Regions from separate parts of the Homo sapiens genome. Here regions 1 and 3 are each reported to be linked to region 2. The links are microRNA targets in miRTarBase. Many come from high-throughput screens and were not tested one by one. Region 2 holds a microRNA gene; each other region holds the end of a gene's coding sequence.

Region 1 (5,225 bases), not on the chromosome of region 2:
ACACAGATCTTAAAAAGAAACTGTTATGTTCTTTCCTAGCTTTTTTGCTTTTTCTTTCCTGCTATAAAATTGTGTTGGCTGCTCATGCTTCTTTGAGATTTTATTTCTTCTCCGGGTGGAGTTGTGGTGTCTTTTTTTTTTGAGACAGGGTCTCGCTCTGTCACCCAGGCTGTGGCAGTGCCACCATCATGGCTCACTGCAGCCTCAACCTCCTGGCTAAGGTGATCTCCACCTCAGCCTCCCAAGTAGCTGGGATGACATATGTGTGCCAGTATGCCTGGTTAACTTTAATTTTTTTGAGACAGAGTCTTGCTCTGTTGCTCAGGCTGGAGTGCAGTGGTGCAATCATGGCTCACTGCAACCTCACCTGCCCAAGTTGAAGTCATCCTCCCACCCCAGCCTCCTGAGTAGCTGGGACTACAGGTATGTGGCACCACACCTGGCTAATTTTGTTCTTAATTTTTTTTTTTTTTGGTAGAGATAGAATATTGCTATGTTGCCCAGGCTGGTCTCAAACTCCTGGGTTCAAGTGATCCTCCTGTCTTGGCCTCTCAAAGTGCTGGGATTATTGGTGTGAGCCTCCATGCCCGGCCTTAATTTTTTTTTTTTTCAAACATTCATTTGTAGAGAGGGTCTTGCTTTGCCCATGCTGGACTCGAACTCCTGGCTTCACACAATCCTCTTGCCTTGGCCTCTCAAAGTGCTGGGATTGCAGGCATGAGCCACCACACCTGGTGGAGTTGTGATTTTTGCTAAAGGGCAGAGTACATGCTTCAGATTGAACAGTGGGGAAGAGACAAGTGCATAAGATGCCTTAGAAGCTCCGAAGCTATAGTAATCAGATCTCTTAGTTATGTGAGAGAAACTCAATCTGAAACAGTTTAGATGAAAAGGGAGAATTCATTAGAAAGGTCATGTTACCATGGGAAAGGCAGAGGTCCAGCCAGACTGAATGGTAACAGAAACCAGGAACTTGAACATCACAGGGCTTTGCTTCATCTCCATTTGTACCCATTATCTCAGTTTGCATTTCTTTACTTGAGACTAAACAGAGTCACATCTCCCACCTTCATGGCCATAGAGGGACTGAGAGATGAACACTCAAAAAATGTTAATTATTATTAAGGCTTGACTTAAAAAAACTATAAGATCTATATATCATTCAGTGGGCTCAAGTATCTCTTAAAAAGTTGCCAGATTCTGAGCCATATAATGAAAGAAAAGTATTTACGAACATGTGTCTTACAAAGGACTTTAATACAGTATATATAAAGAACTTTTACAACTCAATAAGACAAACAATCCAATTAAAAGTGGGCAAAAGATTTGACAGCCACTTCACAGAAAATATACAACTGGCCAAAAAGTACCTTAAAAGATGCTTACCAGCATTAGTCACCCGGGGAAATGAAAATAAAACCACAATGAGATACCACTAGATTCCCATCAGAATGGCTGAAAACTGAGTGTTGGCAGTTGGAACTCTATACAACCCTGGTGGGAATATAAAAGGGTATAGCCCCTTTGGAAAACAAACAGTTTGGCAGTTACTTTATTAAACATAAATCTGCCATGCAACCCAACCATTTTACTGGTAGGTATTTACCCAAGAGAAAGGAAAACCTATGTCTACACAGTGGCTTGTACACAAATGTTCCTAACAGTTTTATTCACAGTAGCCCCAAACTGGAAACAATCCCAAGGTCCATCAACAGGTGAGTAGAAAAACAAATAATGGCATATTCACATAATGGGACACTACTCAGCAATAAAAGGAATAAGCTACTGATACACTGCAACCTGGTGAATTTCAAAGTCATTGTGTGTGAAAGAAACCATAAACAAAAAAGTACATGCTACACAATCCCATTTATATAAAATACTAAACACCACCACAAAGCAAACTAATATATGGTGACAAAGACAAATCAGCAGCGTGAGGGATGGACTGCAAAGGAACTTGAGGAATCTTTTGGGGGCGATGGAAGTGTTCTGCATGTTGATGGTGACAGTGGCTTCATGGCATATACATCTGTCAAAATAACCATTGAGTTGTAATTCTAAACAGATACAGTTTACTGTAACTTGATAAAGCTGAATTTAAAAAGCTGCCAGAGTATTCTGAAATCATGCCTTCTTTTCTCCCTCTGGACCAAGCACCCGCCCAAGCAAGCCAACTTTAACAAAATTATCTCATAGATTTTGGATTTTTTTTTTTTTTGCCATGTTAAAGTTGTATTAAGTTTCAATACAAAACATTCCAAAAAGTGAAAAGTGATCTATAATACCCAAGTTCTATGTTCAACTACCACTTAAACAAGGAAAACATTTTCTAATATCATTCTGTTTTACAACCAGTATAAACCCAGAAGAATCAAGATCTGATTCTTTTTCCACACGTCTGCTAGTTCAGTAAACTATTTATCAAACAGGTGTCTGGTCATTTTAACATACTCCTTGCTTTGAACAATATTCATTCATATTTGGTACAAACTCTATATCCTATATTTAGGATATCTAAATATTTTAAATATTTAGGATATCTTAAGAGCCAAAAGGTCCTCACAGAAGCTTTAACCCAAGTAATCATAAGAATATGGAAGGATTCGGCTAAGACAACTATGGAAGTGTAACAACCACATAAATTTGGTCATTACCCTTGTGGTCTGTGATTAGTAGTAGTCTGCCAAATGAGAGTTAAAAATGTTGTACTTACTATCCCTAGTTGCAAATGTTAAAACATGACAGTGCCATAATTACAACAAAAAAAATTAGAAGTTGAGTTAGTTCCTCTAATCCAACAACTCAAGTCTGTTTCCTTTGAGAACATTACACTATTGGCTCTAGTCTCCAAAGCAATAAACTAAAACTTGTTTCCAAGACGGGGAGGTAAAGCAGGCTTATAAAACAATACAGCAAAAGAAAGCCAAGTGGCCCAATTGTTTCCAGTGTGTTTGCCATCTTAGCATGGTTGTTACTTTCCAGATGTCACTCATAAGTTTTATTCTACAACTAAACTGTTTGTGGATAAGCCACCACAAAAAAATGTTTCACTTACTGACAAGACACTTCACCAGATAGAGCTACCACTTATATCCATCATTTTTATAATTCATCTTAAGTTCTAAATTGAAGAGTTGTCCCCATGACTTTAGCTAAACAAAATGAAACCCAAAGCTGTAAAATCTGTGTAAAGGACCACGAGAACCTCCTGACTACCTCCACTTACCAATTTCCTTAATTACTTCCCCTTTTCCATTTGGTCAATTACTTAAGTAACTACCACTCACTCCCTAGTTATGAGTGTTAATCAACACTGATGCCTTCCTGAGATCCACAGGAACCCTTGAAGGCAAAATCTATTGCCTGCACCAAACCAATTCTGACAGCACTGCTTATGCAACTGCACTGACTTACCAACAATCAGCCGCCTTCTGCTTCAACAACTCTTAGCATTTGATTTCTCTTACTGCCAGCGTTATCTACTGTGAATCAATCAGCACTCCACAAACATAATGAGCACAATCTTCAACCATCTTTGCTGTTTCACAGGCATTTGATGCTTTAAATCTGATGTGGAATGCTGATAGATTCACTTTTTAGAAGTCATAAGCCTTTAGGAAGTTGGAGATAAATTCATTGCTTATCTATTTTCTCCTTTGCAATCAAGCTGTTCCTTTAAAAGTGAGACATTAGAGTTGCAAAAATTTGAAAGAGTAAGAGCAAGCACCTTTGCAGCTTCATGGTTGGTTTTGGCCAAACTTTTTATTTAGTATTCCGTAGTTGTTTAGCACACACTTAAATGGTCTTATTGTGGGAGGGGAAAGGGGAGGTTCTTGCAGATTCCCAAGGAAATGTCAGAAAGGCAAAATGGCCAGCATTATCCATTTGCTTTTTTTGGGTTTACTGGGTGAATAGCACTTTCCTTACATAGGCATCTGATTTCAGGTTTTGCATACTGAGAACAGTGAGATTTCAGTTAGAAAACACCCTGAAATCTTATGAGTAGCATACTCCAACCACCCTCTAATAGCTAGCTTGTTTGTATAGGCAGAATGATTCATCTCTCCATTTTAGTTGGCTAGATGTTTTGTGGAAGATCTTAGAATTGCTTGCCTCATTTACTGGGAAAAACCAGATAGGAAGTGGTCTTTAGGGACACCTTTACTTGGAAAGTTACAACACTAGTACTACAAGGCTTAACACATTTAACATTTGCTTGTTGAAAAGCAATGTCATAAAGTCAAATAAAATTAAACATGTTTTACTTTTTTCCTCACAAGAACATAAAAATTACGGAAGGGACTTAACAGGGAATTTAAAAAAGGTAACACAATTTTTCCTTTTAGTAGTCCTTGGGTAGTTATGATAGAATAGTTTCCACTCTTTTTTTTGTTTCTTTGAACTGGGATTTTGGTCCAAAGTTTTGTTTGTTTCTAGTATCTGCTTCTGCCTCCCCCTCTATCAGATCGGCTTCCTCCAGGGCCAGCACCTCTTGGTGCTCCGCGGCTTGAACTGCTGTAGGAATCACGTGAAGAAGGGTACCCCCTTTCTACAGAAGGGGGAAGCCCTCTTTCTTGTCTGCCAACCCTGTCACAACTTGAGTAGAGATCACTTCGGCTGCTTGAGTAACTGTCTCGACTTCCACCATATCCATCACGTGAGCTGCTATAATCATCATAGCGACTGCTTCCACCATAAGATGGCGGGGGCCCTCGTGTAAGTGGAGCACTACGTGAGTTACCATAACTCTCATATGAATCTCTGTAGGAACCTCCACTTGGATGATCTGAATAGTCACGATCACGACCATATCCATCTCTATCGCCATAGCCTCTTGATGGATAGTCATCACGTGAACTGGAATGACCATAATCACGGTAAGTATAATCTCGTGGTGGTGGTGCATAATCTCTTGTATCACGAGAACTTGGGTAATCTCTGCTTGAATAGCTGTCTTTAGTAGAATACCCATCATCTCTTGGGGACAAATAAACATCTCTACGAGAGGGGAGCGGTTCCCTTCGAGGTGGACCTCCATAACTATCTCTTCCACGTGATAGAGGAGCTCTTCCTCCCATTCCACTGCTGCTGCGAACTAGTCCTGAAGGTGCAGATCTCTTAGGAGAAGGACCCCCACTTCTTGGTGGTGGTCCTCTTTTTACTGGGAGTGGTCCCCTGGAAGAACTCATGTTAAAATTCATGGAATATCCACCATCATCCAT
Region 2 (5,225 bases):
CAACACGGCAAGTGTATGAGTCAGCTACTGCTGAGTAACAACAGCGGCAACAAAGACACCATTTGCCATCTCACAACTTCTGTGTGTCAAGAGTCTGGCTTAACTGGGTCCCCCGCTCAGAGTCTTATAAGCCTAAAATCAAGGTATGGGCTGGGCCGAGTTGTCATCTGGAATTTGGGGTCCTCTTCTGAGCTAGTTTGGTTATCGGCAGAATTCATTTCCTTGCAGCTCTAGGAATGAGGTCCCTGTTTACCTACTGGCTGTTGGATGTGAGTGCTCTGAGCCCCTAGAGGCTACTCTCAGGTGTCTGCCACATGGACCCTCCACAGGCAGCTCACGACATAGCTGTTTGCTTTCTTTAAGGCAAGAAACCCCTTCCCTTTCTCTCTTTCTTTCAACTGTGGTGTGTGTGTGTGTGTGTATATATATATATAACATAAGACGGATCATCTTAACCACGTTTATGTGTACGGTTCAGTGATGTTAAGTATACTCACACTGCTGTGCAATGGCTCTCCAGAACCTTCCATCTTGTAAAACTGAGACACTGTATCCACTGAACAACAGCTCCCCTCTTCCCTCCCCCAGCCCCTAGCACCCACCATTCTCCCTTCTGTCTCTCTGAATTTGACACCTCGGGATGTGCTTCTGGTCTCTTTTATGGGCTCACCTGATGAGGTCAGGCCCACCCAGGATGTCTCCTTTTTGATGAGCTCAGGTCAACTGACTAGGAATCTTCGTCGCATCTGCAAAATCCCTTTACCGAACACACGACCTAACTGCATTAACCTAACCACTGGAGTGACACCCCATCGTATTCGCAGGTCCAGCCCATCCTCAAGTGCAGGGGATTAGATAAGATGTGGGCACCAGGCGGTGGGGGTCTTGGGCGCCATCTTGGAATTCTGCCTAGGACTGTAGCTGTAAAAGACATGGTGGCCATTGCTGCTGTAGGTGCCATTAGTAGGAAACACACACAAAGTGGCCCCCAAGGAGCACGTACTATGCATCAGGCTCTGTGCAAGGCACAGAGAAAACAGCAAAGAACTTTGGGGAAAGTTGAAGACTTGAGGTGAACAACTGGATATCTTAGTAGGTCTCTCTGAAGGTTGAGCAAATGGATAGGGGATATTGGGAGATGGGTTATGTCCCTTGGAAAGAACTCCAAATGTCCCTTTCAATAACTTTCCACTCTACCAGTCATCTCCTCCTTCCAGAAATTCTCAGGAGGCAGCGCTTGGTGGCTCTTCTGCAGATGCCAGGATGGTGACGGTGACAGCAGGCCACGCTCTTGTGTTTAGAATAGGAGGTCCCCAAGGACACAGAGTCACAGACGGGTCAGGTAAGTTGCCTGGGCGCCCACACGAATAGGAGGTGCTTCTGGATTTGAAACAAGTCTTCTAGTGCTAGGAGCCCCAGAACACACCTAGTGCCACCCCCTCCCCACGACAAAGCCCACCAGAAGGGCTGGCTGCCTAAAGAGGTAGTGGACAAGACCTCACAGACTCACAGACTAGTGGGAGAAGACAGAAGAGCGTAGCCCTGAACGCAGTGTGGGGGCACACGGTGATTGGAACCTGGCACCCACATCAACGGTCAAAGTCTAGATGGTTTTGTTTGGTTGTACTCCCGCCTCCCTCTGACCCCATGCCCACGAGTAAGAGGAGCTCCGTCCACATTTATGGACACTTAATGTTCCTGCACACCCATAAATAAGGTGAAGCCGAGTCTGCATGTGTGCGAAAGGGCACAGAGCTTTGCACATACATGGTGCCAGGGTCCATTTCCTGGTTTTGTACTATGGTTACGTAAGATGTCACCACTGGGGGAAACTGTGAAGATACATGTGATGTTTTTTGCTCTGTGTGATTTTTGCAACTTCCTCTGAATCTGTAATGATTTCAAAATAAAGGTTGTTTTTTTTTTTTAATAAGTGGAGACACATTTAGGTGTAACTGGGACACAGCCTGCCACCTACTTTCCAAATGCCTCCTTTCTCCCAATAACCCCCACCCTCTCCCCAAAGACCTGGCAGTACTCCTGCAAGAGGAAGGGATGGACGCCAGAAAAAGGGAGTGAAGGTCCTGCTGATTCGGTCCTGGCTGAGGCCGAACGCAGGCCCCCCCTTCCCTTTGCCACCAAGAGGAGTCTAAGATCTCCCTGGAGAACATATCTTGTAGAACCCCCTCCCCTTGAGTGTGGGCAGGGCCCGTGGACATGATGAGATATCACTCCCCTGATTAGGTTGCTTTTCAGGAAAGAAGGGATTTTGAAGAGGTAAATAAGGTCCTAAATCAGTTGACCTTGAGTTCACTGAAAGGGCGATTATCCTAGGTGGGCCTGGTCTAATCAGGTGACCCTTTAAAAGGGATTGGGCCTTTCCTGAAATGAGAGCCTGGAAGCATGAGGGGCCTATGGAGAAGGCCAAGTGGCCTGAGAGTGGCCTCAAAGAGCTGAGAGTTGCCCCCTCCTGACAGCTAACAACGCAACAGAAACAGTCTATCAACCACAAAGAACTGAATTCTGAATGAGCCTGGAATGAGCTTGGAAGGGGATCCGTCACCACACAAACCTTCGGATGAGAATGCAGCCCTGGCTCACATCTCCGAGGTCAGAAGTTTGGACATAGTGTGGCTGGGTCCTCTGTGCAGGGTCTTACCCAGCCACACTACATCCAAACTTCTGACCTATGGAACCATGAGATAATAAATGGGTGTCACTCTAAGCTACTGCATTCATGGTAGTTGTTACGCAGCCATAGCTAGCTAATACACTCTTTATGTGCTGCAGACTAGAGCATTCTGGGATTTTATGGTCAGCTTTCAAACTTATTCATACACAAGGGTTTGGACATCATGTCCCTCCACAATCAGCCAAGCAACTCAGCAGTTTCCTCCTGAGTATGTCTGAGTATATCATCAAAAAGGTCTAATGACTATGACATTATCTGATTGTCTCAACAGCACTGTGTGGGGCTGAGGAGGCATAGCAGGCATGAAGACCAGAGGAAGAATGGTGCATTTAGTATTAGACAGCTTGACATGCATTAACCCCTTGAGAGGCAGGCACTGCCTATTCTCCCCCCTTTCACAGACGAGGGCATTGAGGTTCAGAAAAGCACAGAGATGGCCCAGGGTCACAGAGCCAGTAGGTGGCAGAGTTGGGAGCCCAAGCCCTAAACTGCTGGTTATGTCACCTCATGAAGCCACTTAACCTCGCTAGGTCTCAGCATCCTTATCTGTCCAGTGACGATCATTCTTTCCTCACGAGTGGTTATGAGATGAAATCAGATAACTCAAGGCCTCTAGGCTGAGGGTCAGCAAACCTTTTCTGCAAAAGGCCACTGAGCTCTGTCCTTGTAGTATGAAAGCAGTCACTGATGACAGGTAAATGAATGTCTGTGGCCGTGTGCCAATAAAACTTTATTCATAAAAACAGGAAGTGGAACAGAGAACTTGGCCCAGGGACCTGCAGTATGTCTGTGGCTGTGTGCCAATAAAACTTTATTTATACAAACAGGGAGTGGAGGGGGGAACTTGGCCCAGGGAGCTGCAGTTTGTCTGTGGCTGTGTGCCAATAAAACTTCATTTATAAAAACAGGAAGTGGAGGGCCAGACTGGGCCTGGGGTGGGGGCACAGCATGTCTGTGGCTGTATGCCAATAAAACTTTATTTATAAAAACAGGAACTAGATGGGGGACTTGGCCTGGGGGCCACAGTTTTCGACCCCGGCTTTAGCAGTTTTTTCCTTCTTTTGCTAACTTCTAAAATGAAGCCGACTGACCCTAGAAGTGCCATTTCTGAAAGAGGAAGAGAGAAAAGGGGTGAAAGGACGTTGAACCAGCCAAGGCAGACTACAGCATTTTCAGGGCGTCTCCCCAAGATCTCCAATAAGGACAACTAGCATCGACTAGGCTAATCCCGTGACGGCCTGTTCTGCGGGGACATCATCACCCTGGTGCTGCCCTCTCCCCCATTCTCTAGAGAAAGGAGCCCCAAAAGAACAGATAAACTCTGCCTCCTAGAAAGGTAAGACTCCTGGCCTGGCGCTGTGTGGGATCATGCCTGTAATCCCAGCACTTTGGGAGGCAGAGGCAGGTGGATCACTTGAGGTCAGGAGTTCGAGACCAGCCTGACCAACATGGTGAAACCCGTCTCTACTAAAAATACAAAAATTAGCCAGGCGTGGTGTCAGGCACCTGTAATCCCAGCTACTTGGGAGGCTGAGGCAGGAGAATTGCTTGAACCCGGGAGGTGGAGGTTGCAGTGAGCCGAGATTATGCTATTGCATTCTAGCCTGGGAGACAAGAGTGAAACTCCATCTCAAAAAAAAAAAAAACAAAAAAACCCAACCTGCTATAAACAAAACTCACACACACACACACACACACACACACACACACACACGCACACAGAAAACAGACTGGGAATTGTAAAAACAGCTGACGAACAGAGACTTTCTACTCTACAGGGAAGTCTCTCACCGTCAGCACTGTGGACATCGGGACTGGATCCATCTCTGGGGTGAGGCTGCCCTGGCACTGCAGGGTGCTGAGCAGAGTCCCTGGCCTCCACCCACTCCCTGCCAGGAGCACCCCTTAGTTACACTGAGCTATGATCGCACCACTGCACTCGCACCTGGGCAACAGAGTGAGACTCTGACTCTAAAATAATAATAATAACAAGAATATAAGAATAATAATTCAGATCCATGTCCGATAAAAATAATAAATAAGTAAAGCTGAGGCTCTAACATGAAGTCATTACGAGGCTCATCCAGCCACAGTGGGCTCTGCACTGGGGCACCCGCCTGGGCCTCTGCCTGGCCCATGTCTGCTCAGGAGCCCTCAGCCCCTTGAACCCTGCTGGTGGGACAGGGGGCCCCTCTACCAGGCCCCTAACTTCTCAACAGACCCCACCTTGGGCCTCCCCAGGCTGCACCTTAACCATCTATGACACGCATCCCCAGGCGGCACCGGGAGTGTCTGCGCAGAGATCCGAGGGTGTTAGCCTGGCAGGGGCCCTGCAGGTGGGTGCTGGTTCACTAAAACGATGAAGCGGATGGGAGGAAAATTAGCATCCAACGGGCCTCATCATTGCTGTCCTGGGCAATGGACTCTGACCCCTGCTGTAGAGGGTCAGAGAGGGTCAAGGTCAAGCCACAGATTGGCAGAGCCATCCTCTCTGGCCTCCACTCGGCTCCCCCATGTCCCCTGCCCCCAGCAT
Region 3 (5,211 bases), not on the chromosome of region 2:
GAAAACAATCCAGCTGTCTAGCCAGGTGTGGTATCATGTGTCTGTAGTCCCAGCTACTCAGGAGGCTAAGGTGGGAGGATCACTTGAGCCCAAGAGTTCAACACCAGCCTGGGCAACATAGTGAAACCCCCATCTCAATTAAAAAAAAAAAATCCAACTGTCTTTGTTTGTGTTTGTGTTGCTATAAAGGAATACCTGAGGCTGAGTAACTTTAAAGAAAAGTTTATTTGGCTCATGGTTCTGCAGGCTGGTGCCAGCATCTGCTTCTGGTGAGAGCCTCAGGATGCTTCCACTCATAGCAGAAGACAAAAGGGAGCTGGTGTTTAGAGGTCCCATGGCAAGAGAGGAAGTAGGCAAGATGGGAGGGAGGCGCCAGACTCTTTAACAAGCAGCTCTCGCAAGAACTAATAAAGTGACAGCTCACCCCCCATTCCAAGGAGTATTAATCTACTCATCAGGGATCTGACCCCCATCAGCCAAACACCTTCCATTAAGCCCCATCTCCAACATTGGGGATCAAATTTCAACATGAGATTTGGAGGGATCAAACATCCAAACTATAGAAGCCTGGCATAAAGAATTCTTACAAATCAGTAAGGAGAGGGGACCAACAAACTAACATTATCTGAAACTGTGACAGAAACCCCATCTTGTACAAGGATCAAAAGAAACTCTTTTTCAGCTATTTAAAAGAGGGGTAGTCCTATGTAGTAGTCATCAATGGCCACTAATATCCCAAAAAAGAAAGACAATCAGACATAATGTGCTTCCTGATAGAAGTACCTACTACCTAAGAATTATTCTTGCCATAAAACTCAAACCTGCCAGCCTGGGCAAGATGACGAGACCCCGTCTCTACAAAAAATACAAAAATTAGCAAGGTGTGGTGCACACGCCTGTAGTCCCAGCCGCTTGGGAGACTGAGGCAGGAGGATCGCTTGAGTCCAGTTCAAGTCTGCAGTTAGCCATAATCAAACCACTGCACTCCAGCCTGGGCAAAAGAATGAGACCCTATCTCAAAAAAAAAAAAAAAAAAAAAAAAAAAAAGGGAAAAAAAACCTCAAACCTGAATGTAGTCACGCCTCTAGATCTAACCACCCCTTACAGGAAGAGAGGAATATATTTAAAATCACCACAGCAGTGCTGTCATAAAATCCAGATTCTGGGAAACTTAACAGGACAAACAGTCTGGTTGTTTCAACAAATATATTACAAGGGGGCGGCAAAAGAAGCAGAGGGAAACCTACCAATTGAAAGATTTAAGAGACACATCACTGTTGCAAGATATGAAACTCATTTGAATCCTGGTTATTAAGAAATTATTAGGCTGGGTGCAGTGGCTCATGCCTGTAATCCCAGCACTTTGGGAGGCCAAGGCAAGCGGATCATTTGAGGCCAAGAGTTTGAGACCAGCCTAGCCAACTGGTGAAACCCCGCCTCTACTAAAAATACAAAAATTAGCCAGGCATGGTGGTACGCACCTATAGTCCCAGCTACTCAAGAGGCTGAGGTAGGAGAATCACTTGAACCCAGGAGGGCAGAGGTTGCAGCAAGCTGAGATCACGCCACTACACTTCCAGCCTGGGTGATAGAGTGAGACCCTGTCTCGAAAAAAAAAATTCTATGAAGTCTAAGCTGGACAAGTCCTAAAGAATTATTTGTTCTAAAATCTTCATTTTATAGAGCATAAAACAGACCCATAAAGGACTATTTGTCCAGCATCTTTAGGGGCAAGTCAGGCCTGGAACCCAGATGTCTTGACTCTTTGTAGCCTCTCTCTTTGTATGAGGAAGTTATTCTCTTAAGTAACAACCTTTTTTTCCTATATCCTTAATTAGGACATTCAACCAATTTTGTGGTAACCGTCCTGTTACCCTCCAAGCGGTCCAAAGACTACTGGATTGCCAAGGGATCAGCTTTGCTCTGCCAGCTGAGCGAATGAAAAGGTGCCACCTCAGCCCTGAAAAAGAACCAGGCCAGAGATCTTTCCTAATGGGAGCAAAAGGTTTGAATAATTTATATGTGAGCAAAACGGTGTTAATTCTGATTTGACTTAAACGTATTGTGACTTTTATTTCTCTTATGACCTTAAAATAAAGTGTTTGAGTTCTTTCTGTTGGCAATCCAAGCTCTGCTGTAGAAGCAGTGGGTTCAACAACCCACCTGTTAAGCCTGCTCCCCCACCCTAAGTGAGAGGCAGCTTCCCATCAGTTACTTTCTGGGACCCCCAGGAAGAGTAAGGACTCAGCACTCGCTTCCCCTCACAGGCTCCTTTCCTCTTCACCCTGATATGAAAGGCCCCAGGTGCTTCCATTTCTAGACAAGATGAAGGCTCTCAGAGTCCAGTGCATGGGAGGTTGATGCAGTGAGCACAACTGGTAGAGCAAATGAGCAGGATAAGAAGAAGTTGGCCTATGATGTCAGTTCCCTGTTCTGTGGGGCTTCATCACAATCCTTGGAAGAGCCTGTGCTTTCACAAAAGGGCAGGCCAATCCTGCCCAAGTACGGAGGATTTTCCCCTTCCACTTTAGGATGAATCTGTGTGAAAACTAACCAAGTCCCAGCCAGGTGCATTTGAGCCTCTGCCACCTCAAAAGCAGAGGTTGGTGGGTCAGTTCTCAAATGGAGCAGCCACTGTGACAAACCATCTTGTGTCAGTCCTGCCAATAATGGTCTGCCTGCTTCCTCGGCCATAATGTGACCCAAGAAACAAGGAAATCACCCAGCTAGGATTGAGCCCTTGGTAGGAGCCATACCACCCTCTTACAAAGAATTGGAGGAACAGAGTCAGCCACAGTGATCCTACCCTCCCAGTTTATCTCTGCCTCCCCACTTCATCCCCATACCTATCGAAGTTAAGAGCAGACTCAAGTCGCAGAGAAGCAGGGAACACCACTTTTACCAGAAATCAGTGCACAAATCAGAAACTACTCTTGGTGTTTCAAGCAGAAATAGGTACTAACATGGGCACAGGAATGGCTGCCACTGCAGAAGTCAAAGAGTTGATATCAGGCATCACAGCATCTGTACTCCAAGGTGGGAACCCTGAAGGAAAAATTATGCCAACCTCACAGCTACTTCACGCTGAAGCAGGGGAATAGAGGGGGCTGCAGAGACTGGCTACTGCACAAACTTGTGTCTGCTGAAGCCTGCACATAACCACGCCCCCTGCTCAAGAAAAATTCCCTCTGCCCACTTTTGTTTTCCAAATATCCCATGAGTGTATCTCATTAGGAGAATCGAACATAGCAGCGAGGGGATTTGGGAGTTTTTGCCCGCCTACGCCTGCAATACAGGTGGTGCAGAATGGAACCAAAGTGGTGGACATGGGTCCTGAGTGCCATCACACCGTTTTAGTAAGGCCACTGAGATCTTCTGGGCCCTAGAAATAACTGAACATGAACCCACAAAAGCCTCAGAAAAGGAAGGGAAGCCAGAGCTACAAACCCAGGCAATCAGCCTTACCCTAAGCCAGATTAGGGGACAAATACAACTACTTCTTATTGACCCCACCCAAGTCCTGGACAGACCTTCTACCCAGGGTTTTTATGGGCTATTCAGAGGCCCAGGACCATAAAGGACACTTGCCACAGGTGGGAGACCCTGATCTGGAACCATGGTGGTTAGGGGAGGGAGATCACCTGGGCAGGGTTAAAAGCTCCCATTTCAGATTCAACTGGGGAAGTTCTACTCTTACACATTTTATAGAGTCCCAATAAGATTTGTATTTAGAAAAGACATTGACAATAAACATGTAAATAATAAATAACAAAATGGGGATTGGGGGTAGTTTGAAAACCACTTTCTTGCACAGCACCTCTGACAAAGCCTACCCACGCCCCCCAACCCCCCCACCCAGCCTCCAGCATGTCAGTGAGACACACACATTATACAAAATAAAAGCATCTCTCAGGACACAGGGAGCACCCTATTCACCAGAGCTTGAATAGAGAGGTGCAGACCACAAGTTCCGTGGCCCACTGACTCCCCTGCATCCAGAACCAAGAGTGACACAAAGAAAGAGAGTGGAAAGAAGAAAGGGTCAGGATACAAAGCCAGGGCCTGAAGGGATCAGAGCTGCAGCTGAGAAGTGCAGGGCCTAGGGGGAGGCAGTGGAAGGATTCAGAGGGTGTGAGAGAAGAAGTTGTCTGCCTGATATATATATATATCATGAATAAAAATCTATACAAAAAAAGGTATTTATTTTCATACAACTCATTTATAATTTATTTTCACACAACTCACTATGTTACAAAACTGTACACCTGCCCCCAAAGTTGGATAACCCAAAGTCACATTCCTTGGAAAGAGAAGAATCAACACTGGGCCGCTTTTTCAAGAGCAGTCTCTTCTGGATTGGGCCCAACAAGGCTAGACCAGAATGTGGAGTACAGGAATGGCCATTCTTCAAGTCCGAGGGGTCAGGTTCTTAGCCTGGTGCTTCCAGTCGTTACAGGAGGGGTGTCTCTGTTTGGAAAGCCAGCACCAGCACCCAGAACACAGGAGTCCAGAGAGACAGGCAGGCACTGCTGGCCACCATCTGGCTGTGGTGGGAATGCCCACGGCGAGGGAGCCGCAGTTCAGTGGAGATGTGCCTGTCCAGGACAGGGACCTGGAGTTGCGGGACTATGTCACTAGGAGGCAAAGAGAAAGACAGAGTCTGAAGTCACAGCAGAAACCACTGCACACGCCAAGGCCCCCAAATGCCCACACAGCTTCTCTTCATCTCCCCTCCTTATAGACAGGAATGGGTATTAGTATATTAATAGGCTTCCTATATCTCTGGCCCTCTTTCATGTCTTTGGCCACTGCTACCAGAAAACCAAATGGCAGAGGATATTAAGACCAGCAGACTGGCTAACTGTCCCTGGCTATTTGGCTCTTTATTCAAAGATTAGTGAAAGTCTTCGTATAAGGCCGAATTCAAAGTTTGCTAACATTAGTCTCTGGGCAATCTTAGGCAGGGACCCTCCTCACTGGCCACCACAGAGGCAGAGCCAGACCATGCAGATTCCTCCCTGGGTCTCTGCCTCTCTCATCTGCCCAAGTCCAGGCCTGATGTGCACAGCATATAGGCATACCAGGTCAAGACAGTTCAAGCTGAGGGGCCCATGACCTCAGGCTTACCCAGATCTTTCAACTCAGCTGAGGTATAAAGTGCCCAACCCCGTAGTCACCAATGGCCTTGTTTGAAAAAGTACTAAACAGGTC

What was found. Region 2 holds the annotated microRNA hsa-miR-7850-5p (GUUUGGACAUAGUGUGGCUGG, at 2,618-2,638, shown strand). A microRNA usually pairs through its seed, bases 2 to 8, with sites in the 3' UTR of a target mRNA and lowers its output. Matches are read on the target gene's strand: a 7mer-m8 pairs with bases 2 to 8, a 7mer-A1 pairs with bases 2 to 7 and ends in A, and an 8mer does both.
Region 1: the mRNA of RBMXL1 is a reported target of hsa-miR-7850-5p. Seed matches in the 3' UTR shown: 7mer-A1 at 2,201-2,207.
Region 3: miRTarBase lists TRABD2A as a target of hsa-miR-7850-5p. The part of its 3' UTR that is shown has no 7-base or 8-base seed match.

Annotation. Positions count from the first base shown.
Region 1 is chr1:88,978,218-88,983,442 of GRCh38, forward strand. RBMXL1 (RBMX like 1) reads right to left here. Exons shown (of 3, transcript NM_001162536.3): 3 at 1,239-5,225. The coding sequence ends at 4,437. All of the region lies in intron 2 of KYAT3 (kynurenine aminotransferase 3), which reads right to left. Among named protein-coding and RNA genes, the nearest start is that of KYAT3, 12 kb to the right of the region's middle.
Region 2 is chr19:2,628,106-2,633,330 of GRCh38, forward strand. MIR7850 (microRNA 7850) reads left to right here and starts at 2,610; the gene lies at 2,610-2,688. The region is part of intron 2 of GNG7 (G protein subunit gamma 7); the gene reads right to left. RefSeq lists an enhancer at 1-75.
Region 3 is chr2:84,817,467-84,822,677 of GRCh38, forward strand. It overlaps TRABD2A (TraB domain containing 2A), which reads right to left. Exons shown (of 7, transcript NM_001277053.2): 7 at 4,200-4,634. The coding sequence ends at 4,451. It overlaps DNAH6 (dynein axonemal heavy chain 6), which reads left to right. Exons shown (of 77, transcript NM_001370.2): 77 at 1,839-2,123. The coding sequence ends at 1,942. Among named protein-coding and RNA genes, the nearest start is that of TRABD2A, 61 kb to the right of the region's middle. RefSeq lists a silencer at 1-134.